Linked DNA regions of Homo sapiens: regions 1, 3, 4, 5, 6 and 7 are each linked to region 2. The links come from fine-mapping of genetic effects on gene expression. A gene starts in region 2. Each other region holds a variant in brackets. All regions are shown on one strand. Distances are from middle to middle. Region 1 overlaps ABCC1 (ATP binding cassette subfamily C member 1 (ABCC1 blood group)). Region 2 holds the start of ABCC1 (ATP binding cassette subfamily C member 1 (ABCC1 blood group)). Region 3 overlaps ABCC1 (ATP binding cassette subfamily C member 1 (ABCC1 blood group)). Region 4 overlaps ABCC1 (ATP binding cassette subfamily C member 1 (ABCC1 blood group)). Region 5 overlaps ABCC1 (ATP binding cassette subfamily C member 1 (ABCC1 blood group)). Region 6 overlaps ABCC1 (ATP binding cassette subfamily C member 1 (ABCC1 blood group)). Region 7 overlaps ABCC1 (ATP binding cassette subfamily C member 1 (ABCC1 blood group)).

The links.
Region 1: its variant is fine-mapped to the expression of ABCC1 in whole blood (TOPMed, PIP 0.91).
Region 3: its variant is fine-mapped to the expression of ABCC1 in whole blood (TOPMed, PIP above 0.99).
Region 4: its variant is fine-mapped to the expression of ABCC1 in whole blood (INTERVAL, PIP above 0.99).
Region 5: its variant is fine-mapped to the expression of ABCC1 in whole blood (TOPMed, PIP above 0.99).
Region 6: its variant is fine-mapped to the expression of ABCC1 in whole blood (INTERVAL, PIP above 0.99).
Region 7: its variant is fine-mapped to the expression of ABCC1 in whole blood (INTERVAL, PIP above 0.99).

What each region holds. Positions count from the first base shown.
Region 1 is chr16:16,080,737-16,085,322 of GRCh38, reverse strand. It overlaps ABCC1 (ATP binding cassette subfamily C member 1 (ABCC1 blood group)), which reads right to left. Exons shown (of 31, transcript NM_004996.4): 17 at 1,781-1,957. Among named protein-coding and RNA genes, the nearest start is that of ABCC1, 130 kb to the right of the region's middle. The variant T/A (reference allele first, on the strand shown) is at 2,352.
Region 2 is chr16:15,946,858-15,951,443 of GRCh38, reverse strand. ABCC1 (ATP binding cassette subfamily C member 1 (ABCC1 blood group)) reads right to left here and starts at 1,828. Exons shown (of 31, transcript NM_004996.4): 1 at 1,645-1,828. The coding sequence starts at 1,692. LOC107984869 (a long non-coding RNA gene) reads left to right here and starts at 2,273. Exons shown (of 3, transcript XR_001752339.2): 1 at 2,273-2,653.
Region 3 is chr16:16,023,607-16,028,192 of GRCh38, reverse strand. The region is part of intron 5 of ABCC1 (ATP binding cassette subfamily C member 1 (ABCC1 blood group)); the gene reads right to left. Among named protein-coding and RNA genes, the nearest start is that of ABCC1, 76 kb to the right of the region's middle. The variant C/G (reference allele first, on the strand shown) is at 2,745.
Region 4 is chr16:16,092,186-16,096,771 of GRCh38, reverse strand. All of the region lies in intron 19 of ABCC1 (ATP binding cassette subfamily C member 1 (ABCC1 blood group)), which reads right to left. It also overlaps the pseudogene RPL17P40. Among named protein-coding and RNA genes, the nearest start is that of ABCC6, 130 kb to the left of the region's middle. The variant GAGAGTCACACTGAA/A (reference allele first, on the strand shown) is at 2,475.
Region 5 is chr16:15,991,776-15,996,361 of GRCh38, reverse strand. All of the region lies in intron 1 of ABCC1 (ATP binding cassette subfamily C member 1 (ABCC1 blood group)), which reads right to left. Among named protein-coding and RNA genes, the nearest start is that of ABCC1, 44 kb to the right of the region's middle. RefSeq lists enhancers at 3,939-4,470, 4,471-4,586. The variant G/A (reference allele first, on the strand shown) is at 2,507.
Region 6 is chr16:16,015,803-16,020,388 of GRCh38, reverse strand. ABCC1 (ATP binding cassette subfamily C member 1 (ABCC1 blood group)) reads right to left here. Exons shown (of 31, transcript NM_004996.4): 5 at 3,768-3,893. Among named protein-coding and RNA genes, the nearest start is that of ABCC1, 68 kb to the right of the region's middle. The variant C/T (reference allele first, on the strand shown) is at 2,255.
Region 7 is chr16:16,002,253-16,006,535 of GRCh38, reverse strand. The region is part of intron 1 of ABCC1 (ATP binding cassette subfamily C member 1 (ABCC1 blood group)); the gene reads right to left. Among named protein-coding and RNA genes, the nearest start is that of ABCC1, 55 kb to the right of the region's middle. The variant A/CA (reference allele first, on the strand shown) is at 2,592.

The DNA.
Region 1 (4,586 bases), 130 kb before region 2:
CAGAGCAAAGTGGCCAGGCAAGCAGCAGGGGAGGCACCCCAGGCCTTGAAGGCTCAGACCAAGGTGTGGAGGTGGGCAGGGGCTGGGGGTTGCTGTGAAGCAGCAGGAAAACCTGGGAGATGGAGCACAGCAGGAGGGAGGGTCTGCAGTGGTGAGAGGCAGAGAATGGCCCTTTTAGAGATGACAAAATGAGCAGGTAACAACATGGACACAGGAACCATGCTCTCTGCAGCTCTGTGGCTGTGTGGCCTCAGGTAAGTCACTTGGCCTCTCTGTGCCTCCTTTTTCCTCAATGATTACCTAGGTATAACAACAAATTCCACCCATGGGCTTGCTGTGGGGAAGAATTACGTGTAAAATGTTTAGCATAGTTCCCAACATACAGAAAATACTCAAGTTATAGGCCGGGCGAGGTGGTTAACATCTGTAATCCCAGCATTGTGAGAGGCAGAGGCGGGCAGATCACCTGAGGCCAGGAGTTCAAGATCAGCATGGCCAACACAGCGAAATCCCATCTCTACTAAAAATACAGAAATTAGCTGTGCGTGGTGGCAGGGGCCTGTAGTCCCAGCTATTCAAGAGGCTGAGGGAGGAGAATCACTTGAACTCAGGAGGCAGAGGTTGAACCAAGAGTGAGCCACTACACTCTAGCCTGGGCGACAGAGAGAGACTCCATTTCAAAAAAAAAAAAAGAACTTTGAGAGGCTGAGGCCAGCCGATCACTTGAGGTCAGGAGTTAGACACCAACCTGGCCAACATGGTGAAACCCTGCCTCGAATAAAAATACAAAAATTAGCTGTGCGTGGTGGCAGGGGCCTGTAGTCCCAGCTATTCAAGAGGCTGAGGGAGGAGAATCACTTGAACTCAGGAGGCAGAGGTTGCAATGAGCCAAGAGTGAGCCACTACACTCTAGCCTGGGCGACAGAGAGAGACTCCATTTCAAAAAAAAAAAAGAACTTTGAGAGGCTGAGGCCAGCGGATCACTTGAGGTCAGGAGTTAGACACCAACCTGGCCAACATGGTGAAACCCTGCCTCGACTAAAAATACAAAAATTAGCCGAGTGTGGTGATATGCACCTGTAATTCCAGCCCCTCAGGAAGCTGAGGCAGGAGAATCACCTGAACGCGGGAGGCAGAGGTTGCAGTGAGCTGAGATCGTGCCACTGCACTCCAGCCTGGGCAAGAGAGCAAGACTCCATCTCAAAAATAAATAAATAAATAAAAAGAAAGAAAGAAAAGAAAGAGAAAATGCTCAGTAAGTGTTAGCTATTGTGCTATTTTCAGTATTATGGCTATCTTGACAGGGACTGTGAACATATGAATCATCGACTCCCCTCCTCCCAACAGCATGCCCTCTGTCATGTGACTCTGCAGTCATGTGACCACAAAGGTAGAATGTACTTCCTTCTTGGTCCCTTGCCTTTGAGCTTGGCCAAGTGACTTGCTTTGTGAGTAGAAGGGACAGTGTACTTTAAGGGACATTGCATGCTTTCTGGGGGGCCTATCTTGGGCCTCTGCTGCCACCATGAGAAGAGCCCCCCTTTGGAAAGCTGTGGACCCCTCACCCCGGTCCCCAGCAAAAGCTCTGTAAGTGAGACCTGAGCCACACCCACAGCCTGGACCCAAGTTCAGCTGGCCTGCAGCGTGCAGCAGAGCCGCCCAGCTGAGCCCTGCCGGGTCAGCTGATAGCAGCAGACTCACAGCCCACTGAGATTGTGAGAGCATTTGTTACGCGGCAACAGCTGACTGATTCAGGGGCCAACATCCAACCTATACTGACCTTCTCGCCAATCTCTGTCCGATCCCCACTGGGCAGGATTTCCAGGTCTGGGAGGAGGGCACAGGCCTGTATCACGGACCTGTAATATGGTTCCTCCAGCTGACATCCAAAAAGGATGTTTTCTCGGAGAGAATCATTCTGAATCCAGGCCTGCTGTGGCACATAGGCCACGGAGCCCTAAGTTGCAAATGGAGAACGAGGTGAGACAGACACACAGACAGATCTGATCAACGAGACAACAGCTGGCCCACCCGCCTGCTAGGAGGGCCTCACTTCACAAGTCATTTTCATCACAACTATTGCTTTGGCAAGAGGGAAACTGACTCACAAAGGACAACAGATGCCAGGGCTGGGATCAGAACCCACAGCAGGTGAATCACTGACTCCAATATCAGGAGTCAAAGAGTTGATATCCTCGTTGATAAGATTACAGTTATTTACTTAGTAGCTAGCTATTAACTCAATGCCTACAGCGGTGATCAAAACCCCTGCTTCCAAAGAGTGGAAGTCCCTCAGGTGACGGAAAACTACTTGATTACAGTTACGGTGGACGCAAAGATAAAAAGATATA[T/A]GACACTTTTTAAGAGTCTAACTTGACTAGGCGCAGTGGCTCATGCCTGTAATCCCAGCACTTTGGGAGGCCAAGGCAGGCAGACTGCTTGAGGTCAGGAGTTCAAAGCCAGCCTGGACAACATAGAGAAATCCCATCTCTAAAAAAAATAGAAAAATTAGCCAGGCATGGCGCTGTGCATCTGTAGTCCCAGCTACTTGGGAGGCTGAGGTGGGAGGATCACCTGAGCCCAGGAAATGGAGGTACCACGAGCTGAGATTGCACCGTGCCACTGCACTCCAGCCTGGACCACAGAGCAAGATCCTGTCTCAAAAAAATTAAAAGACTGACCTAGTTTGGGACATCCGGGAAGGATCTTTGAGGAAATATCCTTGCTAAAAATTGAAGCAAAGACTCCTATATCAAGCATCCATTTCAAAGGCTTATTTTTATTTCCATATGTCAGGTATCACAAACAGCATGAGAATAAAGGCTAGAGTAAGGATATTTGTTTTGTGTATTTTGCTAATGAAAATGCTGAGGTAGTTAATTCTCTATATATTTATTACGTTTGTAGAAACAAAATCTTGCCATGTTGCTAAGCCTGGTCTCAAACTCCTGGCCTCAAGCAATCCTCCTGCCTTGGCCTCCTGAAGTGCTGGGATTATAGGCATGAGCCATCATGCTCAGCTCAAACATATGTTTAGACAAGAACCAAAAAGTGAAGAATGAGTCAGTTTCATGAGGAGAAGAGGGAAGAGCATTCAAGTCCGAGGGAACAGCACATGCGAAGGCCTGGAAGTGAAAAGTACTTGGCACATTCAAGGAACAGAAAGGCCAGCGTGACAGGAACATCGATCAATCCTGTGAGGGAACGACTGGCAGAAAACACACCAGGGACAGCAAGGGGGCCTATACTTGGTGGGGAGCATGGGCTTTATCAGAGGGGCAAGGGGAGCCCCTGAAGATTTTTTTTTGAAACGAAGCCTTGCTGTCGCTCAGGCTGGAATACAGTGTCAAGATCTCAGCTCACTGCAGTCTCTGCCTCCGGGCTCAAGGGATTCTCCTTCCTCAGCCTCCTGAGTAGCTGGGACTAAAGGCACACACCACCAGGCCCACTAATTTTTGTATTTTCAGTAGAGACGGGGTTTCGCCATGCTGGTCAGGCTGGTCTCAAACTCCTGACCTCAGGTGATCAACCTGCCTCAGCCTCCCAAAGTGCTGGGATTACAGATGTGAGCCACCGCGCCCAGCCAGAAGATTCTTGAATAAGGGAATTCTAGAGAGGGCAAAGCTGACAGCAGGTCCCAGGTACCCTCATTCTTACTCTAAATTCTCAAATAATTAACCTGCTGACTTGAATATCCTAACTTTTAAAAAGCCAAAATGTCAACAGTGGTGCCTTACCATAGAACCCACAGAAATTTCAGACATAATATACACAAACCACACCAACTAAAACATTTGGGAAAAGATAAATATTTTATATACATTTCTAGCACTCCCCTTACCTAGGCCAAACAACCAATAATAAATAATCATCTGGCCTGAAATGCTAATAGTGCCAGGATAGCAGAAAGCTGGGGTTAAGGAAACAGAAAGCAATGTGGATCCCATCGGGATTTGGAATTTTCTTCCATTAATCTAGCTCTCATGGTTCATTCATCTTATTTTATGGCAGGAACTTGAAAGTAATGATAAAACATTTCTTAAAACAACAGCTAAAGGTCATTAATTTGGACCCAACCACAATGTATACTTTCTAAAGGCACTGTATAATCAAAGAAAGGGTTTTGCTCTGAAATAAAAACAATGTCATTAACTAGGCCAGGAGCGGTGGCTCACGCCTGTAATCCCAGCACTTTGGGAAGCCGAGATGGGGAGATCACCTGAGGTTAGGAGTTCTAGACTACCCAGGTCAACATGGTAAAATCCCGTCTTTACTGAAAATACAAAAATTAGCCGGGTGCAGTAATGGTGGGTGCCTATAATCCCAGCTACTCAAGAGGCTGAGACAGAAGAATCGGTTGAACCCAGGAGGCAGAGGTTGCAGTGAGTCAAGATCACACGACTGCACTCCAGCCTGGGCAACAAAAAAAACTCTGTCTCAAAACCCACAACAACAAACAACGTCATAAACTTGACATTCCCAAAGGCAGATTCCAAGAGACAAATGTGCAGTTGCACAGACACTAAAGAGGTGCGGACAAGTACACCTGGGACACATAAGGTTAAACAGTTAATAGATTTTTTCTC
Region 2 (4,586 bases):
AAAGTCCTTAACGAAGGAAAAAATAAAAAGAAAAAAGAAAATAAAAATTTTAAAAAATATTACAACTGGACTTCGTGAATGAGTTTCTTAAGATAAACAAAGCGCACCCCAAACATACTCATTAGCCATCAACTACCAATTGCCATCAATAAAATACGTCCTGATACAAAACCTCATGGATGTTCACCCTGTTTTGCCCCCTCCTCAATTCAGAAGAAAATAAACAAGAGAATATTCTGGAATTCACAGCAACACAAACCCAGATCACCATGTGAATCTTTGCAAAAAATAATCTTGCTGTTACTACACCTGGCAACAAGGAAGCCACAGGTTTTCCCCTGCTAAAGAAAGTCCATCTGCAAAGAGGCTCCAATCACCCCCAGACCCTCAAGGCAAAGTCTGTGTTCTATTTCCACCCCTGGGGTTACTCTCCAACCCCACTGGCTTAAAATGGGAGATATATCAAAGTGTGGTAGGTTATTAAACACAATGATACCCTACTAAAAAAAACAAACAAACAAAACCAAACCCTCCAATGGGGCCCTGGAGGATGACTTTTCAACACTCCAAATGCAACCCTCGAGGAAAGGCCGGCAAAACAGGACAAGAAAGTATTTTTGGAAGCTGATCACCAGCTCCTAAGAACCAAGGCTGTTTCTCCTGATTCCTAAACAAAAGAGGAGAGAGAAACAGTCGTGTCCAGATTTGCCTACTGCGTTCACCAACAATCAAGACAGCACGAGACAGAAGTGCCTGCCTTCCTGGAACAAAGAGGCAAATCGCATTACGGAGAAGCTGAAGCCCAAAAGACTGGGGCTTAAACCACAGCAAGTGGACTCCAGACACCCAGTCAGGCTCCGCAGGCCACGTTACAGAAGAAAACTTGCCGGGGTTAAATCTAAGGGGCATCCCCAGAGAGGAGCTCCACGTGTTGCAGGGAAGGGAGGGCAGGACCACAGCTACCAGGGTCCTGGGCGTCCTCAGCTGCACCCCAAGTCTGCCCCGAGCCGAGGGTCAGGTAGGGCACATCAAGGGTGGACATCCCCCTTCTTCCCTGGTTCCCCCAAACTTCCCCCGCAGTATCTAAGTAGAAAGAACAAAAAAAACAAAGCTAGGTAACCACAGAAGAGTAATGTGGCTTGTACGACAACTTTGGGGAGACAATGAAAGTCCCTTTCTACAATCTAAGCCCCTCCCCAGCTCACCCCGTTGGTCACGGAGTATTTTTCGTGAAAAGGGGGGACCCTAACCACAAAAAAGATGGGAAAACAGAAGCAGAGAGACACCCCTCTTCCCGCCCCCCATCTCTAGCGTCCCCTTCCCTGGAAGGTTGTTTTTACAGACGGGAACCCCAAAACAGGAAGGCCTCCTCACGGCGGCTCTGACCCGACCCGACCCTCCAAAACCCCAGGGCTGGGCACGCGGCCCCCCACGCTCTGCTCCGCAGGAACTGAGTCACCCAAGTTTCCCCCATGCCTTGCACCCCCGAAAGGGGCTGGGCCGCGGGCGACGTGAGGGTCCCGGGCCCCCGAGGCCGGCAGCAGAGCGGGGAGCGGGGTGCCCCGGGCGGCTGCGGGCCCGGTGCTTTCCCTCCCCGCCGGCCTCCCTCCGTCCCGCCGGCCTCACGCGGCCCCCGGCACGTACCCAGAGCGGGTCGGAGCCATCGGCGCTGCAGAAGCCCCGGAGCGCCATGCCGGTGGCGCGGGCGGCGGCGGGCACCGGGCGGCGGGTGATCGGGCCCGGTTGCTGGCGCGGGCGGCGGCGGGCACCGGGCGGCGGGTGATCGGGCCCGGCTGCTGGCGCTAGCGCTGGCGGCGGCGGCGGCGGCGGCGCAGGGAGCCGGGGCCGGGGCCGCAACGCCGCCTGGTTGGCCCGCGCGTCACGGGGATGCGGCGGCCCCGCCCCACCCCGCCCCGCCCCGGCGCCCGCTCACCTCGCGCGTCTCGGCGTGGGCAGCCGGACCAGCCACCTCTCGGCGCCCCGGGCCTGGACCCCGCGCCACCCCCACCCCAGATCCTCCAAGGCTTAGGCCCACCCGCTCGCGGACGGGCCTGGGGAGCGTTGGCTCGCCTTCCGGAAGCGCCTGGGATCTTTGGGGCCACACACCCTGCGACCACTTTTCAAATGCTGTTTAAGGACAGTATCCGTCACCAGGGGAAAATAACGTGAACGGAGCCCCCTACCTGCCTGGAGTGTACCGGGCGCCTTAACTGTGCCCTCATTTCATCCTGTAAAGTCTCCACGTTCATGAAGGAAGAAACCCAGGTGCAGAGAGGTTGAGTGATTCCCTCTGCCCAGGGTCACCTGGCTAATCACTTGCAGGGCTGGGATTTGAACCCGGTCCGCTGACTCCAAAGCTGAGTCACACAGAAGGAGGTGAATACTGTTATTCACCTACCTTTTACAGATGGGGAAACTGAGGTTCAGAAAGGCGAAGTGACTTGCCCGAGGTCACACAGTTAATAAGGAGTGAAAGTGGAAGTGAGATTCAAACCCGTGAGCAGCCTGATTCCGGAGCACTGATGACCCAGACGGCGCCAGTCTCCATCACTAACAGCTGTTGACCTCACCTGTGTGCAGAGCGCCTTTGCTTCTTCTCAACCTCTTTAAGCATCACTTAGAAATAACCAGGTTATTGATCCTCACCTCAGAGGTAAGGAAACTGAAGCCTGGAGACATGATAATCGTAGGCCAGGCATGGTGGCTCGTGCTTGTAATCAAGCACTTTGGGAAGCCGAGGCGGGCCGATCACATAAGGTCAGGAGTTCAAGACCAGCCTAGCCAACATAGCAAAACCCTGTCTCTACTAAAAACACAAAAATTAGCCGGGCATGGTGGCGGGCACCTGTAGTCCCAGCTACTTGAGAAGCTGAAACAGGAGAATCACTTGAACCTGGGAGGCGGAGGTTGAAATGAGCTTAGATCACACCACTGCACTCCAGCCTGGGCAACAGAGCAAGACTCTGTCTCAAAAAATAATAATAAAAAAAATTAATATGCATTCACAGTGACAAGGCTTCCTAAGGCTGTGTTCTTAGCAATTTACACAAATTAACTTGTGCAATCCTCACAACCCCATGAGGTAAGAAGTAGTATTATCCCCATTTTGCAGATGAGGCCACTAAGGCCCAGAAAGACAGAGTACATTGTCAGGGATTATTTAGATGGTAAGTGATTAAGCCAAACTTTGAACCCAAGAAGTCTGGCCAGGGAGGTGGGAAGTCTATAATACCATCCATTGCGCCATATTAGTTTTGAACTGTTTCATAGGCAGACAGGTAGAGACAGAGGAGCTAGGGCGAGGCCGCAGAGTGTAAATTTCACTGTGATACCAGCGATGCCTTTCTTTTCTCCTCTCCTCCTTAATCTCCTGCCTGATGTGGGTTTCCATAACACATGCACACAACAGCTGCACCAAATAAAACAGAAACAGTGTGTGCATTTGAGACCTCCCCCCAATCAAAGGACCTAGCGAGGGAAGGAGGAAGGAGGAAGGTAGATAGGATTGTTTTCTGTGATTTTTTTATTGGCCCGGGTCCCCCAAGGGTGAATGAGTTTCTAAGGGATAATTACTTTCATGTAATAATGCCAGTTATGCTGTTGCTTGACCTTTATACTGTCAACAAATATTTATTGAGCATTTACTATATGCCAGATGTCTTGCTAGGAACAAGATAAAATTGCTACTCTTATATAGCTTAAAGGATTGGAATTTTTTTGGATTGGGATTTTTTTAAGTGTTTCTTATGGTAAGATGGCAGATGTTAATCAAATATTATATTTTTGAAAGGGTATTTACAGGCCAGAAGTAGTGACTCACGCATGTAATCTCAGTGCTTTGGGAGGCCGAGGTGGGAGGCTCATTTGGCCCAGGAGTTCAAGGCTACAGTGAGCTATGATTGCACCGCTGCACTGCAGCCTGGGTAACACAGCGAGATCCTGTCTCAGGAAAAAAAAAACAAAAAAAAAAGCCAGGGAAGGGGAGATATGTACAACTATGGTCACAGCTAGAAAAAAAAAGTGGTGGCCGGGCATGGTGGCTCACGCCTGTAATCCCAGCACTTTGGGAGGCCAAGGCAGGCAGATCACTTAAGGTCAGGAGTTCGAGACCAGTCTGACCGATGGTAAAACCCCATCTCTACTAAAAATACAAAAATTAGCTGGGTGTGGTGGCAGGCACCTGCAGGCTCAGCTACTCGGGAGGCTGAGGCAGGAGAATCACTTGAACCTGGGAGGCGGAGGTTGCAGTAAGCCAAGATCATGCCACTGCACTCCAGCCTGGGCGACAAAGCAATACTCTATCTCAAATAAATAAATAAATAAATGTAAAAATACAAAAATTAGCTGGACATGGTGGTGGGTGCCTGTAATCCCAGCTATTCAGGAAGCTAAGGCAGGAGAATCACTTGAACCCAGGAGATGGAGGTTGCAGTGAGCTGAGATGGCCCCACTGCACTCCAGCCTGGACGACAAAGTGTGACTCCATCTCAAAAACACAAACAAAAAAAGTGGGCAAAAGTGGGCCTAAGTTAGCAATTTATACCACCCTTGCTGGGGGGTGGAAGTCAGAGAAGGCTTCCTGGAGG
Region 3 (4,586 bases), 77 kb before region 2:
CCCTTAATCACTGAGGGTTGAGGTAGGCAGAGGTTAACCAACCGTTTCTGGAAACGGCCAGCTGATAACAAAGGAACAAAGGAAAAGGAAGGCGGCAGGGGTGGAGGGGCAGCTTCTGTGTGAAGCAGTGCATAGCACGGGGCTAGCTGGCACGGCTCAATCCCAGCTTGCCATTTCCTAGCTGTGGGACCTTGGGTCAGTTCCTTGGTGGTGAAGATTAAATGAGATCAAACATGGTAAGTACTTAGAATAGTACCTGGCACAAAGTAACAGCCAAAGAAAGGGTAACATGAGTAGTAGTAGTAGTAATAATAATAGAAGCAGTGACAGTAGCCTCTGGTATATGGAAACATAAAACTGTACACCTTAAATATATTTTCGAGACAGGGTCTCGCTCTGTCACCCAGGCTGGAGCACGGTAGTGTAATCATAGCTCTTTGCAGCCTCGACCTCCCAGGTTCAAGTGATCCTCCCACCTCAGCCCCCCAGGTAGCTGGGACTACAGACGCACACCACAACACCCAGCTAATTTTTGTATTTTTTGTAGAGACAGAATTTCACTCTATTCCTTGAGCTAGTCTCGAACTCCTGAGCTCAAGTGATCCACCTGCCTCGGCCTCCCAAAGTCCTGGGATTATAGGCATGAACCACCGTGCCCAACCTATATACCATTTTTATTTGTCAATATACATCAATAAAGCTCAAGTGTTTGGGGGGGAAAAAACCCCAGTGGGTTCACAATACACCACTATACCAGATGCTTTATATATCAGAAGCATCTATGGCCCACAGACCAGCTATTTATAAATAAAGTTTCATTGGAACAGTCACACCCATTCATTTATGTATTATAAATGAGTATGGCAGCTTTTGAGCTACACAGCGGAGTTAGGGGTTGCCACAGACAGTGTATGGGATGCAAAGCCTCAAGTATTTATCAGCCAGCCCTTTCCAGAAAAGGTTGGCTAACCTCTGCCTACCTCAACCCCCACAACATACCAAGACACAGTGATTAAGGGGTGAAAACAGGCCTCAAATGACAGTCTTTTGCCTGCAAATCCAGTCTTCTTCAGCCTTGGCATCAACACGCAGGATAGAGACAGCCAGGGGAGGCTTGAAATGCAGCCCATATCCAGCTTAACAAGACCCTCAAATCCTAACCTTCCCTCGGCCCAGTAAAACTAAGTCCCCAGCCACTGGTAGAAAACCTGCCCTGCAAATGCAACAAGGACATTGACAGACAGAACACTGCACAGTTTTTTGTTTTTTGTGTTTTGAGACTGAGTCTCACTCTGTCGCCCAGGCTGGAGTGCAGTGGCCCGATCTCGGCTCACTGCAACCTCCACCTCCCAGGTTCAAGCAATTCTCCTGCCTCAGCCTCCTGAGTAGCTGGGATTATAGGCATCTGCCACCACACCTGGCTAATTTTTGGATTTTTTGATAGAGATGGGGTTTCACCATGTTGGCTAGGCTGGTCTCGAACTCCTGACCTCAACTGATCCGCCTATCTCGGCCTCACAAAGCGCTGGGATTACAGGCATGACCCACCGCGCCCAGCAATTGCCATTTCTAATTTGCACACTCAAAGAGCTTTGTCAAATTCTTCTCCTCAGGCCGCCTCTCTTCTATGGATCTAAACACAGATTTTCAGATTATCTCAAGTGACCGATAGGGAGGCCAACACAGGGTCCCCCCTTCACTGGCAAAAAAAAAAAAAAAAAAAAAAAGGAAATAGCCTTTTTTTTTTTTTTTTTTTTTTTGAGACGGTTTCACTCTCATCGCCCAGGCTGCAGCGCAATGGTGCGTTCTCAGCTCACTGCAGCCTCCGCTTCCCAAATTGAAACAGTTCTCCTGCCTCATCCTGCCACATAGCGGGGATTACATGGTGCACACCACCATGCCTGGCTAATTTTTGCATTTGTAGTACAGACGGGGGTTTTATCATGTTGGCCAGGCTGGTCTCAAACTCCTGACCTCAAGCGATCCACCCACCTCGGCCTCCCAAAGTGCTGGGATTACAGGCATGAGCCACTGCACCCGGCCTGGAAACAGCCTCTATCTGACGTGGAAGGCCTTACTTGACAACAAAGACAACTAACTTCTGAAGTAGGTCAAGGATTGACAATAAAAAAGGAGGAAAAAAAATCATGGGGCACTGGATTGTAATCCAGGGAGCATGTCATTTAACCCAAACCAAGGAGAATCTTTTGACATCACACACTAGGTACAAAAGACAGAGCCACCTCCAGGGGGTTTCCCAGCCTCAGACACTGAAATACAGTAACTCCTGTCCCAGATAGCATGAAAGCAGCTTGTGAACTGGTCCCTCTTTCATTTGAAATGAAAACAATTCAGAGAAGTCCTGGCTGAAGGCAGAGGGAGGAAAAGCCTGATTCATCCAAACAGAGTGATGTGTTCTTTGGCATCCACCATATTGACATCTACGTTTGGTACCAGATGAGCTGGCCAGAAACCCTGTGGTTTGAACCAATTAGGTACGGCAGCCCCAGGCACTGATTCTTGGAGCGCAGGGTAGTTTAAGGACCTTGTCTGGGTCTTTCAGCATGTTGACCTGTTTGTCAGAAACACTCTCAGCTTTTAGTTCTAACGGGTTTTCTGCTGGTTACCTCCGCTCTGCACTGCCAAAGTGCCCCCCACAACCCCTGCACCCAGCAGGAGGCAATGCGTGCAGCAGCAATAATGTTTAGAGCAGTGATCCTCAAACGCAGCTCTGTCACCAGCAT[C/G]GGTGGCACCTGGGAACTTGTTGGGAACCGCAGATGCTCGGGCCCCACCCAGACCTACTGCATCAGAAACTGTGTGGGTGGGGACCAGCAATCTGTGTTTCAAGCGTGAGAACCCAGTGGGAGGGTTCCTGACACATCACCACTCTGACCCTCAGTGTCTTCATCTGTCAAGTGGGGAGACTGATCATCCTGCCCTACTGTGAGGACTAAATAAATAATACAGTGCACCCAGCTGTTATCCTTATTATTAGACGGAGCCTAAATGTCCAGCAGTAAGAGATTTGCCAGTATAACGTAAACACTGGTGATTTGTTTGCCCTGTTGCTTACCAACTGTGCAAAATGCCTCCCTGCCCAGGACCTCCGTTTCCTCTACTGGAGCACACCCCAGAATCTTTGCCCATGCCCTTTGCCCATCAACTTGTCTGTTTTCTTTGTTTTTTTGTTTCAAGAGATGGGGTCTCACTATGTTGACCAGATTGGTCTCAAGAAATCTTCCCCCCTAAGCCTCCCAAAATGCCAAGACTACAGGTGTGAGCCACGCACCTGGCCCTTTTTCTGGTTTTTGATGCTGTAGTGGGCACAGGGGAATATCCTGGCTCAGCCTCCCTCTCTACCTGCCTGGGTGCCTGCAAAGGCTTTTTAAGTGCCACCGACCTCACCCCCATGTCCAATGTATCCTCTTCCTTTGAGCCTGAGGATCTTCCACAACCTGTCCAACCTGAGTGTGTCATTCCACTGGTGAAAAACCTTTCCTCAGCTCCCACCACAGTAGGGTTAAAATTCCAAGTCCTGGCTGGATGTGGTGGTTCACCCATCCCTGTAATCCTAGCATTTTGGGAGGCCAAGGCAGGGCATCACTTGAGCTCAGGAGTTCAAGACCAGCCTGAGTAACATACAGAAACCCCATCTCTACCAAAAACAGAAAAAGTTACTTGGGCGTGGTGGCACGCAACTATGGTCCCAGCTACTTGCGAGGCTGAGGTGGGAGGATCGCTTGAGCCCCGGAGGTGGAGGGCACGGTGAGCTGAGATGGCACCACCGCACTCCAACCTTGGTGACAGAGTGAAACTCCATCTCAAAACAAACAAACAAACAAAAAATTCCAAGTCCTTATTGTGACACATAATTGCACCCTTGATCTCTGATGCTGACTCTTGCCTCTCTTTTCGCTTACATCCTAGCCCTTCCAATCTAGCCAAGCAGAATTCTTTTTTTCTTTCTTTCTTTTGAGACAGAGTCTTGCTCTGTCGCCCAGACTGGAGTACAGTGGCGCGATCTCGGCGCACTGCAACCTCCGCCTCCCGGGTTCAAGCAATTCTCCTGCCTGAGCCTCCCGAGTAGCTGGGATTACAGGCATGCACCACCACACCCAGCTAATTTTTTTATGATCAGTAGAGACGGGGTTTTACCACGTTGGCCAGGCTGGTCTTGAGCTCCTAGTCTCAGGTGATCTGCCTGCCTCGGCCTCCCAAAGTGCTGGGATTACAGGCATGAGCCACTGCACCCAGCCTAGCCAAGCCGAATTCCAAGTGATTCCCAACACCCACAAGCTCCCTCAACTGGACCTTTGCACATGCCAGTTGCTCTACCAGGAGCACCCTCCCACCCCACCACCTCCAAACATATTCACCTGGCCAGAGCCTCGCATTCCTTAGACTTGAGCATCCCCTCTCCTCCCTGGATGCTAGCCCTGGAGCCCCAGGCTGAGTCAGGGACCACTCTCCCAGCCCCCACAACTCCCAGCACTTCCCTCCCTCAGAGCCCCCACTGTCCATCCTGCAGTTGTTGGTTCAACTGCCTGCCACCCACCTTCCATCTCTCCTCCAGGGCAGTGGTCAAG
Region 4 (4,586 bases), 150 kb before region 2:
GTTGCCAGTCCTCTCACTGTTTATTCCACCAACACTGCCTTTACTCAAGAAGGTTCTGGAACTCTGCTTGGGCAAGGTCCAGCAGGCCAGCCTCCCCGGAGGGAAGAATTCAACTCACAGCTTTATAGTCAACGCCTCATTTTTGACCAAAAACGGCATTCACTGGCTGCCTCACTGACCTCCTCCCCCAGCCTCGGCAGAGAAAGCTCTTCATCCTCAAAAGAGGAAGAAATCCGGCCTCTGAGGACAGCCAGAAGGAATGTGGGGGTCTGTCTGATGAACTCTCTCGGCAGCTGCTCTGTGCTGACAACTAATTTGTGTAACTTGGGGAGGTGCTTATGGCCCACTGTTAAGAAAAGAAATCAAAAGGTGGCAGGAGATGAGAAAACTCTAAGATATACTCTCAATCTTGTCAAGGGAGAAGGCCTAGGAAGGAAGGACAGGTGAAAAAGATGCCAAAGCTAACAACAGCTCCCCTTCTGGGCAGTGAGGGCAGAAAGATGTTCTTTCTCGGGAGTTTTTTTTTGTTTTTTTGTTTTTTTTTTGAGACAGTCTCGCTCTGTTACCCAGGCTAGAGTGCAGTGGCACAATCTTGGCTCACTGCAAGCTCTGCCCCCCGGATTCACGCTATTCTCCTGCCTCAGCCTCCTGACATTTCTGTATTTTTAGTAGAGATGGGGTTTCACCATGTTGGCGAGGCTGGTCTCGAACTCCTGCCCTCAGGTGATCCGCCTACCTTGGCCTCCCAAAGTCCTGGCATTACACATATGAGCCACCTTTTTTCCTGATTCTTTGTACTCTTTTGTAGTTTGCAAATGTCTACGATGAGCACATGTTGCTTTTATAATCATTAAGAAAAACTCGGTAAATACTTAAGAGGGAAAAATATTTGCCATGAGGTTAACAGATGGTTCAAGCAAGGTTTTGAAAAATGGCCACGGGCCAGGTGCCGCGACTCATGCTTATAATCCCAGCATTTGCATTTTGGGAGGTCAAGGTGGGAGGATCGCTTGAGCCCAGGAGTTCGAGACCAGCCTGGGCAACAGACTGATATCCCATCTCCATAAAAAAACATAAAAATATATAAATAAAATTTTTTAAAAGAGAAAAATGGCCACATTGTTGGAATAAAGATCCTTCTCCCAAGAGGACAAGGGAAGAATTCAGCAGTGTGAAGTCGGAGCACACAGGGTTTCTTGCTCGTGGTGCTTTGGATGTCCTGGCAAGGGGATTCCCTGTCACGGGGGGCAGGGTAAGGGGGAATTCGTCTTGAGTGCTGTAGGATGTTTAGCGACATCGCTGGCCTCTACCCTGCTTGCCTGCCAGGGGCAAACCCCACTCCAGTTTTGACATCCCAACATGTCTCCAAACATTGCCAACTGTCCCCAGGGTGGGGGCAATTTGCCCCTGATGGAAAACCACTGCTCTAGGTATTAGGTTCCTAAGAAAGAAACCAGAGTCATGAAGATGTGTTTTACCTTCCAGGTATGAAGGTTAATGAGCCATTTTTTTAAATCCCTTAAAAATTTGTTCCCCTAAGGGGCTTGAGGCAATCTGTGAAAATGGTTCACTATTCACTTTATCCAGAAAACACCACAGAATCATGCAGATCAAGAGGTTCAAATCTTCGTGTTCACCTTAAGAACATTTGTGAGGCCGGGCATGGTGGCTCATGCCTGTTATCCCAACACTTTGGGAGGCTGAGGCAGGAGGATCCCTTGAGGCCAGGAGTTTGAGACCAGCCTGGTCAGCATGGTGAAACCCCATCTCTACTAAAAATACAAAAATTAGCTGGGCGTGGTGGCACATGCCTGTAACTCCAGCTACTCGAGAGGCTGAGGCACAAGAATTTCTTGAACCCGGGAGGTGGAGGCTGCAGTGAGCCAAGATCGTGCCACTACACTCCAGCCTGGGCAACAAGTGAGACTCTGTATCAAAAAAAAAAAAAAAAAAAAAAGGCCAGGCGCAGTGGCTCACGCCTGTAATCCCAGCACTTTGGGAGGCCGAGGCGGGCGGATCATGACGTCAAGAGATCGAGACCATCCTGACTAACACGGTGAAACCCCGTTTCTACTAAAAATACAAAAAAAATTAGCTGGGCATGGTGGCGGGCGCCTGTAGTCCCAGCTACTCGGGAGGCTGAGGCAGGAGAATGGCGTGAACCTGGGCGGCAGAGCTTGCAGGGAGCCAAGATCGCGCCACTGCACTCCAGCCTGGGCGACAGAGCAAGACTCCGTCTCAAAAAAAAGAAAAAGAAAAAGAACACTCCTGAAAGCGCCCAGGCCATCAAAGGTATGCACGTACAAAAGGCCACAAAGTATCAGAAAGATGCCACTTTACAGAAACAACATGTACCATTCTGACATTATAATGGTGGAGTTGGTAGATGTACCCAGGCCAAGAAGTGGGGCTGGCCACAAGGTCGGCGGCCCAAAAAGAGCACTGAATTTCTGCTGCACATGCTTAAAAATACA[GAGAGTCACACTGAA/A]CTTAAGGGTTCAGATGCAGATTCTCTGGTCCTTGAGCATATCCAACTGAAGAAAGCACCTAAGTTGCGTCGCCGGACCTACAGAGCTCAGGGTCGGTCGGATTAACCCATACGTGAGCTCACTCTGCCACATCCAGATGATCCTGCCTGAAAGGGAACAAACTGTTCCTAAACCGGAAGGGGAGGCTGCACAGAAGAAAAATATATCCCAGAAGAAATTGAAGAAACAAAAGCTTATGGCATGGGAATAAATTAGGAATAAAAGGAATGCCATTAAAAGTTAAAAAAAAAAAAAAAAAAAAAAGGAGAGAGGGAGACAAACAGTAAAAAAGATATATTTCTTAGAAATCAGTAAACTGAATATCCCGGGAGAGAGGTCGGTATGGCCCCATTCACAAGCCTGGTTCCTGCCCATCCCCCCTCAAGGATTCTCCCAAACCAAATACCAACACCTGCACCCCTTCAGCCTGGGTGTTCTAAAAAAAAGAGCTGATTAATCCAACAAGGAAAAAAGTTCCCCTTTAGGAAGAGCCAAAAATGTGGTTTAAACAAACCCAAGGTCATTGGCGCTTCGAGTTGGCTAAGGCTGGGCAAGACCAGACCCTGATGTCAAGACTTTATAGCCAGGGCCCCTCCAGAGCAATGGAAAAGGGTGGGTGGTGAGAGAGGGGGGTGCCCCAGTTTGATGTAAGACCCACTGCCAAGGACTTCTATGTAACCTCAAAGGCAGGAGGTAGGGAGGTCAAACTGGGAAAATGAACGCACGAGGTGCCAGGGTGGTGGGCGGCATTTGCATCACCAAATTAAGTGCTGATGTGTACAAAAATCACAAAGCATCTGGCAGCCTTCCATGTTCTGTATACACTGCTTGGATACTCTAGCAGCTGGGAAAGAAAGGCGGGGGTGCGGAACCTATCTGGGGCCAAGAGAGTTTAAGGACATTTTTTGCTCACCTGGACGGAAGGGTAGAGAGACAGACCTCACGCTGGGCAAAAGATTCAGCTAAACCCACACATTTTGATTTAGAGAGCACAAAGGGTATTGTCACCTAAAAGTAGCCTGCCAAGCAGGTCAGTGAAAAAGTCACCGAGAAGTTGCCACAATGCATTGCTCGGGCTGAGAGATAGACAAAGGGGGATTCTGCAGCAAGAAGAAACAGGCTAGACTCAAGGTAGAACTTCCCAACCACAAGGGAATGAACATGCAGAAATTCAGTCTAATCAAATAATTTAAAAGCTGAAGGGAATGTCAGCTATCATGCACTGGCAAGAAACAAAAATCCAACTGTATTTTGAGACATGGTCTTGCTCTGTCACCCAGGCCAGATGGAGTGCAGTGGCATGATTTTGGCTCACAGCAGCCTGACTCCCAGGCTCAAGCGATTCCCCCACCTCAGCCTCCCGAATAGCCGGGACTACAGGTGTGCACCACCATCCCAGCTAATGTTTGTACTTTCAGTAGAGACGAGGTTTCACCATGCTGCCCAGGCTGGTCTTGAACTCCTAACCTCAAGTGATCCACCCGCCTTGGCCTCCCAAAGTGGTGGGATTACAGGCACAAACCACCACACCCGGCCACCAACTTTTCCTTTAAAACCACCAGGGCTCATGACAGCAGTATTCACAAGAGTCAGAAAGTGGAAAAAACCTGAATGTCCATCAACCAGTGAACAGATCAACACAGTATGGTCTATCTGCACAATGGCATATTATTCCGCAATAAAAGGAAATGAAGCTACAACATAGACGAACCTTGAAAACACCACGCTAAGTGTAAAAGCCGCCAGTCACAACATTCCACCTATTGTGATGGCATTTATATGAAATGTCCAGAATAAGCAAATCTAGAGAGACAGAAAGATTAGTGGTTGCCTAGGGCTTCGGAGGTGCTGGGGAAAATAGGGAGTCATGGCTGATGGATTGGGGTTTCTTTTGGGGGTGATTAAAAAAAGTTCTAAACCTGACTGTGGTGATGGTTGGATTTTGTGATTTAAGTGGGTTAATTGTATGTTGTATGAATTTTTGTTTTGTTTTGTTTTGTTTTTCTGAGACGAAGTCTTGCTCTGTTGCCCAAGCTGGAGTGTAGTGGCACGATCTCG
Region 5 (4,586 bases), 45 kb before region 2:
GTTTGAGGCCAGGAATTTCAGATCAGCTTGGGCAACACAGTGAGACTGTATCTCTACAAAAAAATTTAAAAACTTAGCTGGCCGGGTGGAGGGGTTCACGCCTGTAATCCCAGCACTTTGGGAGGCTGAGGCGGGCGGATCATGAGGTCAGGAGTTCGAGACCAGCCTGGCCAACATAGTGAAACCCTCTCTCTACTAAATGTACAAAAATTAGCCGGGCATGGTGGCGTGCGCCTGTAGTCCCAGCTACTCAGGAGACTGAGACAGGAGAATCGCTTGAACCCAGGAGGTGGAGGTTGTGGTGAGCCGAGATCAGGCCACTGCACTCCAGCCTGGACAAAAGAGTGAGACTGCATCTCAAAAAAAAAAAAAAAAAAAAAAAAACTTAGCTGGGCGTGGTGGTACACACCTGTAATCCCAACACTTTGGGGGACCGAGGCAGGAGGATCACTTGAGCCCAGGAGTTCGAGACCAGAGGTGGCAATGGAGTGAGACTCCCCACCTTCTACAAATAAAAAAATTTAAAAGTAGCCAGATGTGATGACGTTTGCCTTTAGTCCCAGCTACTCCAGAGGCTGACGAAGGAGGATCCCTTGAGCCCAGGAGTTCGAGGCTGCAGTGAGCTATGACTGCACCACCGAACTCCAGCCTAGGTGAAAGACTGAGACCCTGTCTCAAAAATAAATAAATAAGTAACTTGCAACAGTCGGGTTCTTATTGCTCAGTGGACATTTATCAGCGACTACTACCATGGGCCAAGGTCATGTGGAAGTAAAATAAAGTCTCCACTCTCACACAATTTCACTTTATGCAAAGCGGCCAAAACTACCAACAGCTAAAAAAAACAACTCTATGTATGCCCAATGGGAGCAAATGGCTTGAAGAAGAAGAAAGTGGGTGAAGCATAATGGTGGGTGGGCAGGTGCTAGTTCTTTATCAGGTAGACAGAAAGGGCCTCTGGGCCAAGATGACATTTCAGCAAAGGGCGAAAAGCAATGAAGAAACCTGTGCCGCCTTCTTCTGTCTATAGAAAGAGTAAGAGGGAAGATTCATTAGTTGCATCAGCCAAGCACCACTCTAAGTGTTTCACATTACATTTCATCCTCACACACAACTCTAGGACTCAGGTACTATAACGTAACCCATTTTACAGATACAGAACCAGGCCTGGTCATATATAACCTGCAAGCAGCATACACAGTCAGGAATTTGATGTTTCGTTTGTTTTTTGAGACGGAGTTTCGCTCTTGTTGCCCAGGCTGGAGTGCAATGGTGTGGTCTCGGCTCACTGCAACCTCCACCTCCCGAGTTCAAGCAATTCTCCTGCCTCAGCCTCGCAAGTACCTGGGATTACAGACGCCTGCTACCACGCCTGGCTAATTTTTGCATTTTTAGTACAGATGGAGTTTCACCATGTTGGCCAGGCTGTTGTCACATTTCTGACCTCATGATCTGCCCTAATCCCAGCTACTAGGGAGGCTGAGGCAGGAGAATTGCTTGAACCCAGGAGGCGGAGGTTGCAGTGAGTCAAAATCACACCACTGCACTCCAGCCTGGGCAACAGAGCAAGACTTCATATTGCAAAAAAAAGAAAAGAAAAAAAGAAAGAAAAAAAGCTAATTAATCTGCAGGGGGTAGGCCTGAAACCAGGGAGAGGAAGGCAACTACTATTTTTTGTTGTATTATCTTTCGTACTGTTTGAATTTTCTCCTCTGCATGATTTCTAAAATAATAATAAGAAAGCTAGTTCGCACTTCAAATAAATAAATAGCAGCAGGAATTGAAGGGTAGGACATTTCTAAATGCTGAGTTGGAAACAAAGAGAAAGCATGTATTTATTGGGTGCCAATAATAACAGCCAGAGTGATCACGCCAGGCACAGTGATTAAGTGCTTCCCAAGCACAGTCCATTTAAGCTTTCCAACAGCCCTACAAAGTCAGGACTATTAAAACTCTCCCCTTTCCTGGCAAGGGCTCTGAGGTCCAGAGAGTTTATGTAAATTGCTTGGGCTCGTCAACCTAGAAGAAACAGGGCCAGGATTTGAACCCACTGAGAGTCTGACACTGAGATCCACCACCTCTAAACCACGTGCTTGAACTCTAAGGCCTTTTGGTTTGTTTGGTCAGCTGGTTTTGTTTTTTGAGACAGGGTCTCACTCTGTTGCCCAGGCTTGAGTACACTGGCACCATCACAGCTCACTGCAGCCTCGATCTCCTGGGCTCCAGCAATCCTCCTGCCTCAGCCTCCCAAGTAGCTGGGACTACCTGGCACGCATCACCATGCCTGGCTAATTTTTGTATCTTTTGTAGATTCAGGGTTTTACCATGTTGCCCAGGCTGGTCTTGAACTCAGTCTGCCCGCCTCGGCCTCCCAGAGTGCCGGGATTAGAGGTGTGAGCCACCATGCCCAGCCAGAATTCTAAGGTGTTTGCAAGGTACATGGCAGACAGATGGAGCCTGAGGTCGCTTGGAGGCAAGATCTCCAGGGCCGGAGATCAAGTGAATG[G/A]CCTCAGGCCTCACAGATTCCAAATTCATCTCCCTAGAGCAGAGAAGCAAGATTTTGACTCAGACATGGAAACATTCTACAACTCTTCCCACCCACCCACCCCCGCATGTGAGCAGTGCAGGGTAGTGGTTAACAAAACAAGGTTCCAGGTCTAGGTTCCCGTCTCCACCACTTACAGATGTGTGCCCTCAAGCAGGGCTTCTTCAACCTCAGAACCGCTGGTATTTGAGCCCAAATAATTCTTGGTTGTCGGGGGCCATCCTGTGCATTGTAAGATACTGAGTGGCGTCGCTGGCCTCTGCCACTAGATGATAGTAGCACTCCCCACCTCCTCAAGTTATGACAATCAAAACTGTCTCTAGACATTGCCAAATATCTCCAGAGAGGCAAAAATCATCCCTGCTGCCCTAAAGCAAGTCAGTTCACCTCACCAGGCCTTGATTTCTTCATCTGTGAAATGGGACTAATTCTAGAACCCACCTATTACAGAGTTTAGAGAGTTATCAGGAGGGTTCAATCAGGTGACCCAAGTGCCAGGTTGCAGGAGCTGGTGTTCCCGGCAGCCAAGAGACGGATTAACACAGATAAGTGCAGGGTTCCTGTCATGCATTCATTCATTCAATCTATCATTCGATGACTGTTTATTGAGCACCTACTATATGCCTAGACCTGGGCTAGTCACAGGCATGGGGGAAAATCAGAAACGATATCTCTGTCCTCTTAAGACTCATAGTCCATCAAAGATGAAAGCTCACAGATAAGAACATAATGACAAAGAGCAGTACCTGCTGTGAAGGAAAGAGCAGGGGTGTCAGGACAGGAAGCACCAGAGTGGCGGTCTGGGCAGATGACATCCTAGCAGACTGGAAGGGTCAGGAAGAGCTGGCTGTGCAAAGATCTCGGGAAGCACATACCAGGCAGAAAGATGGCACAGGCAAAGGCCACAGTGGGGTGGGGTGGGGGGAGGATATGGCTGCACCAATGAGCTAGGACCCAAGATTGGGCGGGAGAAGTCACCAAAGGCCACCACATAGCCAATCTTGGAGGCATGGTACAGAGCATGGATTTTTTGTTCTAATTCTCACAGGAGGCCCTGGGAGTGCATTAAGCAGGGTCATGGCATCGCCTAATTCACATATTAAGACAGTGGTCCCTGGCCAGGCACAGTGGCTCACGCCTGTAATCCCAGCACTTTGGGAGGCCGAGGCGGGAGGATCACCCAAGGTTAGGAGTTTGAGAGCAGCCTGGCCAACATGGTAAAACCCCGTCTCTACTAAAAATACAAAAATTAGCCAGGCACGGTGCCATTGTGCCTATAATCCCAGCTACCCAGGAGGCTGAGGCAGGAGAATCGCTGGAACCTGGGAGGCAGAGGCTGCAGTGAGCCGAGATTGTGCCACTGCACTCCAGCCTGGGCAACAGAGCAAGAATCCATCTCAAAAGAAAAAAAGACAGCCATCCCCTTTTTGGCAGCAAGGATAGGTTTTGTGGAAGACGATTTTTCACAGACAGGGTAGGGGATGATTCGAGTGCATTACATTTATTGTGCACTTTATTTCTATGATTACATTGTCATATATAATGAAATAATTATACAACTCACCATTATGTAGAATCGGTGGGAGCCCTGAGTTTGTTTTCCTGCAACTAGATGGTCCCATCTCAGCTGTGATGGGAGACAGTGATAGATCATCAGGCATTGCATTCTCAAAAGAAGCACACAGCCTGGATCCCTCGCGCACACGGTTCACAGCAGGGTTCGCGCTCCTATGAGAATCTAATGCCACAGGTGATCTGACAGGAGGCAGAGCTCAGGCGGTGATGCAAAAGATGGGGAGCGGCTGTAAATACAGATGAAGTCTCACACGCTCGCCTGCCACTCACCTCCTGCTGTGTGGCCTGTGGCCTGGTTCCTAACAGGGCATGCATGAACTGGTGCCAGTCCGTGCTCTGGGGATTGGGGACCCCTGTATTAAGAGACCCTAGGAGAAGATCCTAGGGGAGATGGGAAAGGAGGCTGCAGCCATTGTCAAGGCAACGAAAGGGGTGACAGAGAAGCATGGTTCAAGGCCACTGCAGA
Region 6 (4,586 bases), 69 kb before region 2:
GGGGTTCCTGAACAGGAACCCAGAGGGAAGTTCAGGCTTCCTGGACAGAGAGTGTCAGCCAATCAAAGTGTTCTCTCCTGGACAGGTGCACAAATGTCAGAAATGCAGCAGCCTGCACACCCACATTTGACACCCTGCTGGATCTCACTGCACAAGAGGCAGACCACAGCCGGGCACGGTGGCTCAAGCCTGTAATCCCAGCACTTTGGGAGGCCAAAGTGGGCGGATCACTTGAAGTCAGGAGATCGAGACCATCCTGGCCAACACGGTGAAACCCCATCTCTACTAAAAATACAAAAACTAGCCAGGCATGGTGGTGTGCGCCTGTAGTCCCAGTTACTCAGGAGGCTGAGGCAGGAGAATTGCTTGAACCTGGGAGGCAGAGGCTGCAGAGCCAAGATCATGCCACTGCACTACAGCCTTGGCGACAGAGCGAGACTGCAAAGAGACAAACCACAGTGTCTTCCACCATCTTGGAAGACCAGCAGTGACACAGGAGGAGCCGAGCTGGGGGAGATGACACAGAAACAGAAAACAATGACTGGGGAGAAGAGTCAGGGTGTCCCAGCCCCACAACAGTGTAGCCTTTTAGCCGCCAGAGCTGAGAGCTTCATGTCACCCAGGGTGGCAGAGCAAATCCCAGGCCCAGGCTGCCAGGAATGCAGAAAGCACAAAAAAAGGTCCAAGTCAGATCTGTGAGTCACCCTGGTACACACACGCCCAGGGGAGAAGTGAAAGGGAATTTATCCAGATTCCCAAGGGAGATCAGAAATTAAGAAAGTCCCTCCTTCAAAAAGCTTCCAGAACCATCCATGGCAAGAGAGCTCTTCCCAGGCTCCCAGAGGAAGCTTGATGGGTTGGGTGATCCCCACGCCAGCCAGGCAGCCCCAACCAGACTCTGTTTACCCTGAGCAATCCAAGGTCTGCAGCCACCCAGTTGAGGTGTGACTTGTTTTGTATAAATCCCAGTTCTAAAGAATGGCTCGGCCAGACACGGTGGCTCACACCTGTAATCCCAACATTTTGGGAGGCCGAGGCGGGTGGATCACTTGAGGTCAGGAGTTCGAGACCAGCCGGGCCAAGATGGTGAAGCCCCATCTCTACTAAAAATGCAAAAATTAGTCGAGCATGGTGATGGGCGCCTGTAATCCCAGCTACTCAGGAGGCTGAAGCAGAAGAATCGCTTGAACCCAGGAGGCGGGGTTGCAGTGGGCCGAGATCATGCCACTGCACTCTAGCCTGGGCAACAAGAGCAAGAATCCGTCTAAAAACAAAACAAAACAACAGAAAAAAACAACAAACAAAAGACAAAAAAGAATAGCCCAACATTTGACAAACAGGGACACTCGGCTGCCACACACTTACACACACTGATACACAATACATATAACAGCCACTGACTCATGAGCCCCTCTCTTCTGTGTCAGGCACCAGCCAGGGATCCAAAATGGGGTGACCCCTGGGCTCAAGCGATCCTCTAGCCTTGGCCTTTCAAAGTGCTGGGATTACAGGCATGAGTCACCATTGCCTTTGTGAACTTTATACATATGCAAGCACACACAACACAAAGACACACACACACACAAACACACACATACATGAACATAAACACACTCACAAGCACACATTCACATATAAGCACATACACGCATATACATGCCTATGACTACCGAGACACACAAGCAGGCACATGCACACGTACACACAGATGCACAGGAATACATACACAGATGTGTGCACTTGCTCATTTCTCCAACCCAGCTCCTCTTTGGGCAAGGAAATACCAACACGGGACTCCTCAGAACATACACTGGGACATGCATTTCTTTTTTCTTTTTTTGAGACAGAGTCTCATTCTGTCACCCAGGTTGGAGCGCAGTGGTGTGATCTCTGCTCACTGCAACCTCCGCCTCCCAGGGTCAAGAGATTCTCCTGCCTCAGCCTCCCGACTAGCTGGGATTACAAGCATGCACCACCATGCCTGGCTAATTTTTGTATTTTTAGCAGAGATGGCATTTCACCATGTTGGCTGGGCTGGTCTCGAACTCCTGAACTCAACTGATCTGCCTGCCTCAGCTTCCCAAAGTGCTGCGATTACAGGTGTGAGCCACCACACCTGGCCTGAGACATAGGTTTCTAAAATCTCTTAGTTATCATCAACCTCCTCCTCCATACTGATGCCCACCAAGCCCTTTCGTCACCCACAAGGTGAGCCTCTGCCCCTCACAGAGGTTTAGGCCAAACCCAACAGAAC[C/T]ACAGAGGTGAAAAGTTCTCCCACTGCAATCCGCCCATTACCAGCTGACTAGCCATGAATCAGCATCAAATAGGTGCTCCAAGGCCTCCCTGCCCCATACTCACAATAAAACCCAAACAGCTCATCTGGCTCACAAGGGGGCTGTCCCACCTCTCAGGCACCCACTGTCTCTTAGCCTTCTCCTGCTGTGCTGGCTTTTCTTGCTGTTCTCTCCACACCTCCCCACCCCAGGGCCCTTGTACTTATTCCCCTCTGCCTGGAACACTCTTCCTCTAGGTGTTTGCTCCACCCACTACCTCACCCCTCTAGGTCTCCGCTCACATGCAGTTTTCTGGGCAGGCCTTCCCAGATCTCTCTTATCAAAAGCTGCACATGAGCCTGGGCAACACAGCAAGATCCCATCTCTATTTAAAAAAATAAAGAATAGGCGAGGCGTGGTGACTCACACCTGTAATCCCAGCACTTTGAGAGGCCAAGGCAAGAGGATCGCTTGAGCCCAGGGGTTTGAGACCATCTCCCCATCTTTAATTATTAATTAATTAAAAGTAAGCCAAGTTGGGGAGCAGGTGTAGGGAGAACATCAGGAGGAATAGCTAATGGATCCTGGGCTTGATTCCTAGATGATGGGTTGATCTGTGCAGCAAATCACCATGGCACACATCTACCTATGTAACGAACTTGCACATCCTGTACCTATACCCTGGAACTTAAAATAAAAGTTGAAGAAAGAAAAAAAATTAGCCAGGCATGGTGGTGTGTGCCTGTAATTCCAGCTACTCAGAAAGCTGAGGTAGGAAGATTGCTTGAGCCCAGGAGGTCAAGACTACAGTGAGCCGAGATCACACCACTGCACTCCAGCCTAGGCAACAGAGCAAAACCCTGTCTCAAAAAAAAGAAGAAAAGAATTAAGGGAAATTAATAAAGTGTTCCCTTTTGTTCTACTAGCAGAAACGGTGGCCATCTCTACACTCCTCACTGATAAGTTTCCATATTTACAGAATTTCTCTGAAACTGACAAAATAGACCAAGGATCTCACACTCAAATCCCTCAGGGGCCAGGCATTTGCCACAAGTGAGGAAAGCATGCCAGTATAATACAACAGGGAGTGCCGGGGACTCCAGCAACTCCTCAGCTCTGCCCTGTAGGATTATAGGCCTAATCTGTCAGAACTTTACTTTTCCAGAACATCTGGACAGCTAGAATTCATAAAAAATACCTGATTTGTAATTATCTGCTCACATTTTCCAAAATCACCATGCCAAGTGAGAAACCTACAGGCCTGCAAGACAGCAGTTCATCAATGACAAAGCAGATTCTCTCCTTCAGCTCCCCCAGCCACATCTAAGCCTCAGTTTTTCCATCTGTAAAGTAGGTGGGATGATATTCCCTGTATCAGGGGTTGAGGGAGGCTGGAACGAGATCCTGGATGGATCTAAGAAATGTTAGCTGGTACTGTGTCACGCATCTCTCTCACACACACACGCACACACACTCATCTGTGGTCACACTTACAGGGTCGTGGATGGTTTCCGAGAACAGGGGTGAGCGATCTGAGAAACAGGACAAGACGAGCTGAATGAGTAAGAGGGAAAAGTAGACGTAGAAAGTGATGTCACGAAACAGGTCCACCTGGGCATCCTACATGGTGGGGAAGGAAGGAAGAAAAAGATCACATTCTGGGGCTGGGTGTGGTGGCTCACGCCTGTAATCCTAGCACTTTTGGAGGCCGAGACAGGCAGAACACCTGAGGTCAAGAGTTGGAGACCATCCTGGTCAACATGGTGAAACCCCGTCTCTACTAAAAATACAAAAATTGGCCAGACGTGGTGGTGGGCAACTGTAATCCCAGCTACTCGGGAGGCTGAGACAGGAGAATCACTTGAACCCAGGAGGCGGAGGCTGCAGTGAGCCGAGATCACGCCACTGCATTCCAGCCTGTGTGACAGAGCAAAACTCCATCTCAAAAAAAAAAAAAAAAAAAAAACCAAGATCACATTCTGAGAGCAGGTGGCAGAAACCCACTCAGCCACAGGGACACTGCAGGCTCCCCAGGGGCTCCCAGCTCCCCCCGGGATGTAATGGCAGAAAGCCGGCTCCATCACGGGTAGTCTCACTGCTCACCGCTGCCTGATGGGAGGAAGACAGGGCTTGGGAGTGAAACAGAGCTGTATCAAGGCCTGGCTCTCTCACACTGGCTGTGGGATCTTGTCAACTTATTTAACCTTTCTGTGCCTCAGATTCCCCACCTATAAACCACCGGTGGTTCTTAACCAGGGGTGATTCTGCCTCCCAGGAAACATCTGGCAGTGTCTGGGGATATCTTCTTTGTGG
Region 7 (4,283 bases), 55 kb before region 2:
TAGACAAATTCATAGATACATACATAAATAGATCAGATGTACCTGCCCAAGAATAAACCTCCACCATCAGCTGTTCTGTAATGAAGAATTTAAATTTTTCTTTTTTTTTTCTTTTTTTGAAATGAGGTCTTGCTCTGTTGCCCAGGCTGAAGTGTGGTGGTAAGATCACAGCTTCCTGTGCCTTGAACTTTTGGGCTCAAGCAGTCCTCCCACCTCTGCCTCCCAAGCAGCTATACTACAGGTGTGCACCACCATGCCCAGCTGAAGAATTTAAATTTAATTCAAGCCATAATCTGGCAACTGACTAAATAACTTTGGGAAAACTTACTACCCTTTTTGGGGTCTCAATTTCCTATCTCCACCACAATTCAATCGGATAAAATAAGAAGTACAAAATAGGTTTCCCCACCCACAGTTTGGCCCATAGATGGCTTGTTGTTATTGCTGTTGTTTTAGGCATACTTTTTGTTTTTAAAAAAATTAGATTAGATCCCAACATTTAAAATTTGATTTCCGGCTTTTTATTTTTATTTTTTTTTTTCTTGACAGAGTCTTGCTTTGTCACCCAGACTGGAATGCAGTGGCATGATCTCAGCTCACTGCAATCTCTGCTTCTCGGGTTCAAGCGATCTCGGCTCACTGCAATCTCTGCTTCCCGGGTTCAAGTGATTCTCCTGCCTCAACCTCCTAAATAGCTGGGACTGCGGTCACCCCGCTTGGCTAATTTTTTTTGAATTTTTAGTAAAGACAAGGTTTTACCATATTGGCCAGTCTAGTCTCGAAGTCCTAAACCTCAGGTGATCTGCCAACCTCAGTCTCCCAAAGTGTTGGAATGACAGGCGTGAGCCACCACGCCCGGTCTCTGGCATAACTTTAAAAATCAGAAAATCTTCTGGGCGCAGTGGCTCACGCCTGTCATCCCAGCACTTTGGGAGGCCGAGGCAGGAGGATCACGAGGTCAGGAGATCAAGACCATCCTGGCCAACATGGTAAAACCTCATCTCTACTAAAGTACAAAAAACTAGCCAGGCATGGTGGCGCATGCCTGTAGTCTCAGCTACTTGGGAGGCTGAGGCAGGGGAATCACTTGAACCCAGGAGGCGGAGGTTGCAGTGAGCCAATATCATGCCACTGCACTCCAGCCTGGCAACAGAGCAAGACTGTGTCTCAAAAAAAAAAAAAAAAATCAGAAAATCTGGTGGTGCTGGGCCCCATTCCTGTTACATGACCATCAGTAGGAGCTGGGAGGGGCCAATCTTTAGATTAGGCCCAGTTGTCCATTTGGCTGCGGTCCCCAAAAAGCCCACTTCTCCCACAGCCTTCCCATCCTACTGGCCTATGCACCCTCCAAATAGCTCTGATTCCAACAGCCCTCCCACGATCACCTGAGACCCCCATGGAGTGTCAAGGAACCCAGACCCTTACAGCTCCACAGAGCTTTAAAGCCATATCAAAAAAAAAAAAAAGTTAAAAATGAGAAATGAGGGAAATAAGATCACTTCACTTAAAAAAAAAAGTGTCAATCTGATCAAAATATACATGTTCCAATAATTAAAGAGATCTAGTTATTAGGTTGGGCGCGGTGGCTCATGCCTGTAATCCCAGCACTTTGGGAGGCCTAGGCAGGCAGTCAGGAGTCTGAGACAAGCCCGGCCAACATGGCAAGAACCCCCCATAAAAACATAATTTTTATATTTTACTAAAAACATAAAAATTAGCCGGGCAGGGTAGTGCACGTCTGTAATCCCAGCTAGTAGGGAGGCTCAGGCAGGAGAATCACCTGAACCCGGGAGGCAAAGGTTGCAGTGAGCTGAGACTGCACCACTGCACTCCAGCCTGGGCAACACAGTCTCCATCTCAAAAAAAAAAAAAAAAAAAGTAAACCTTACAAGGCCAACACATACAAAGAGATTTAGCCAGGAAACATCAAGACACAAACCCTAAAAAGGACAAAGTTCACGTCTTTTTGGCCTGGCGTATTTGGAACACAGCCTTGTAAAGAAGAAGTTGATCGTGGAGAAGGCATGACATCTCAAAGACTGATTATTTTAATTGATTTCATACTACTGTTAATTCCTGAGGTGATGGCTGAAAAAAGGATTAAACTGTTGGTGGTCATTATATACAGAACAGCTTCTGAGCAGTTGCCAGTAAAAGCTCATTCCAAAGGAATGTGCCCTGCTAGAAAGAAAACGATACCAAGACTTGACATATGCAGTTATGTATACAAGAGACATAGTTCCAATGTTAAACATTTAATTGACCTGATCCTAGCCCCAAATTATTCCTTGCCAGGACTATGCAACTGCTTCCTAAGTCTTCACTGCCTCCAGCCTCTCCTTGTCCTACTGAGTCCTCCCCGCTACAGCCAGTGCTCCCCACCACAGTCAGTGTTCCCCACCACAGCCAGTCCTCCCTATCATAGCCAGAGAATTATCTATGTACACATCCATATGTATACCCATGGATATATTTATCACCCAACCATGAACCCATCCATCCATCCATCCACCAATTCATCCATCCACCCACCCACCAATGCATCCATCCACCCAACTACCCACTCACCAATTCATCCATCCACCCCCCCC[A/CA]ACCAATTCATCCATTCAGCTACCCACCTACCAATTCATCCACCCATCCACCCACCCACCAATTCATTCATCCATCCACCTACCCATTCACCAATTCACCCATCCACCCTACCCACCTACCAATTCATTCACCCATCCATCCATCCACCCACCCACCAGTTCATCCATCCATCCACCCACCCACCAATTCATTTATACATCCACCTACCCATCCACCAATTCACCCATCCACCCTACCCACCTACCAATTCATTCACCCATCCATCCATCCATCCACCCACCCACCAGTTCATCCATCCATCCACCCACCCACCAATTCATTTATACATCCACCTACCCATCCACCAATTCACCCATCCACCCTACCCACCTACCAATTCATTCACCCATCCATCCATCCATCCACCCACCTACCAATTCATCCACCCATCCACCAACCCACCAATTCATTCATCCATGCACCTACCCATCCACTAATTCACCCATCCACCCTACCCACCTACCAATTCATTCACCCATCCATCCATCCATCCACCCACCTACCAATTCATCCACCCATCCAGCAACCCACCAGTTCATTCATCCATCCACCTACCCATCCACCAATTCATCCATCCACCCTACCCACCTACCAATTCATTCACCCATCAATCCATCCATCCACCCACCTACCAATTCATCCACCCATCCAGCAACCCACCAGTTCATTCATCCATCCACCTACCCATCCACCAATTCATCCATCCACCCTACCCACCTACCAATTCATTCACCCATCAATCCATCTACCCACCCAACAGTTCATCCATCCATCCACCAACCAATCCATCCACCTGTCTATGTATCCATCTACCCAACCAACTATCCATCCATGCATCCACCCATGTCTCCCTCTCTTTGTAATTATTTTTAATAGGTAATATATTTGTGTGCTAAAACTCTTTCAAATTACTCAAAAAGGTATACAGTGAAAAATATGTCTTTCTCCCCAAATTAACAGCCCCCCATTGCTACCCTACAGGCAAGCTACCATTGCTAACATCTTACATTCTTCCAGATATATTCCAAATACGACCTATTTTGTTGCCACAAAAGGCACTACGATACTCCATTCTATACCTTGCTTTTTTTTACTTAGCTAATATTAAAAACTGAACTTTTTTTTTTTTTTTTGAGACAAGGTCTCACTCTGTTGCCCAGGCTGGAATGCAGTGGTGCAATCATAGCTCACTGCAGCCTCAACCTCTCAGGCTCCAGCAATCCTCCCACCTCAGCCTCCTGAGCAGCTAGGACCACAGGCACACACCACCATGCCCAGCTAATTTTGTATTTTTAGTAGAAATGGGGTTTTGCCATGTTGCTCAGGCTGGTCTCAAAGTCCTGAGCTCAAGCGATCCACTCGCCTTGGCCACCCAAAGTGCTGGGATCACAGGTGTGAACCACCGCACACAGCCTTTGGAAACTATCTTTATCAGTAACATAGATGTGTTTTATTCTTGATATTTCTTTTGAACAAAGAGGTACAAGGGACAAGTCTTCTCATTCCATTCCCTATGGCCCTCCCCTCAGTTCCTCTCTCTAGAGGCAATGATCATGGGTTGCTTATGTCTTCTTTCAGAAAATATTTTATACAAAAATAAAGTAAATATACATCTTCTGTTATCAAATCGAAGGAAGCATACGTTACATAAT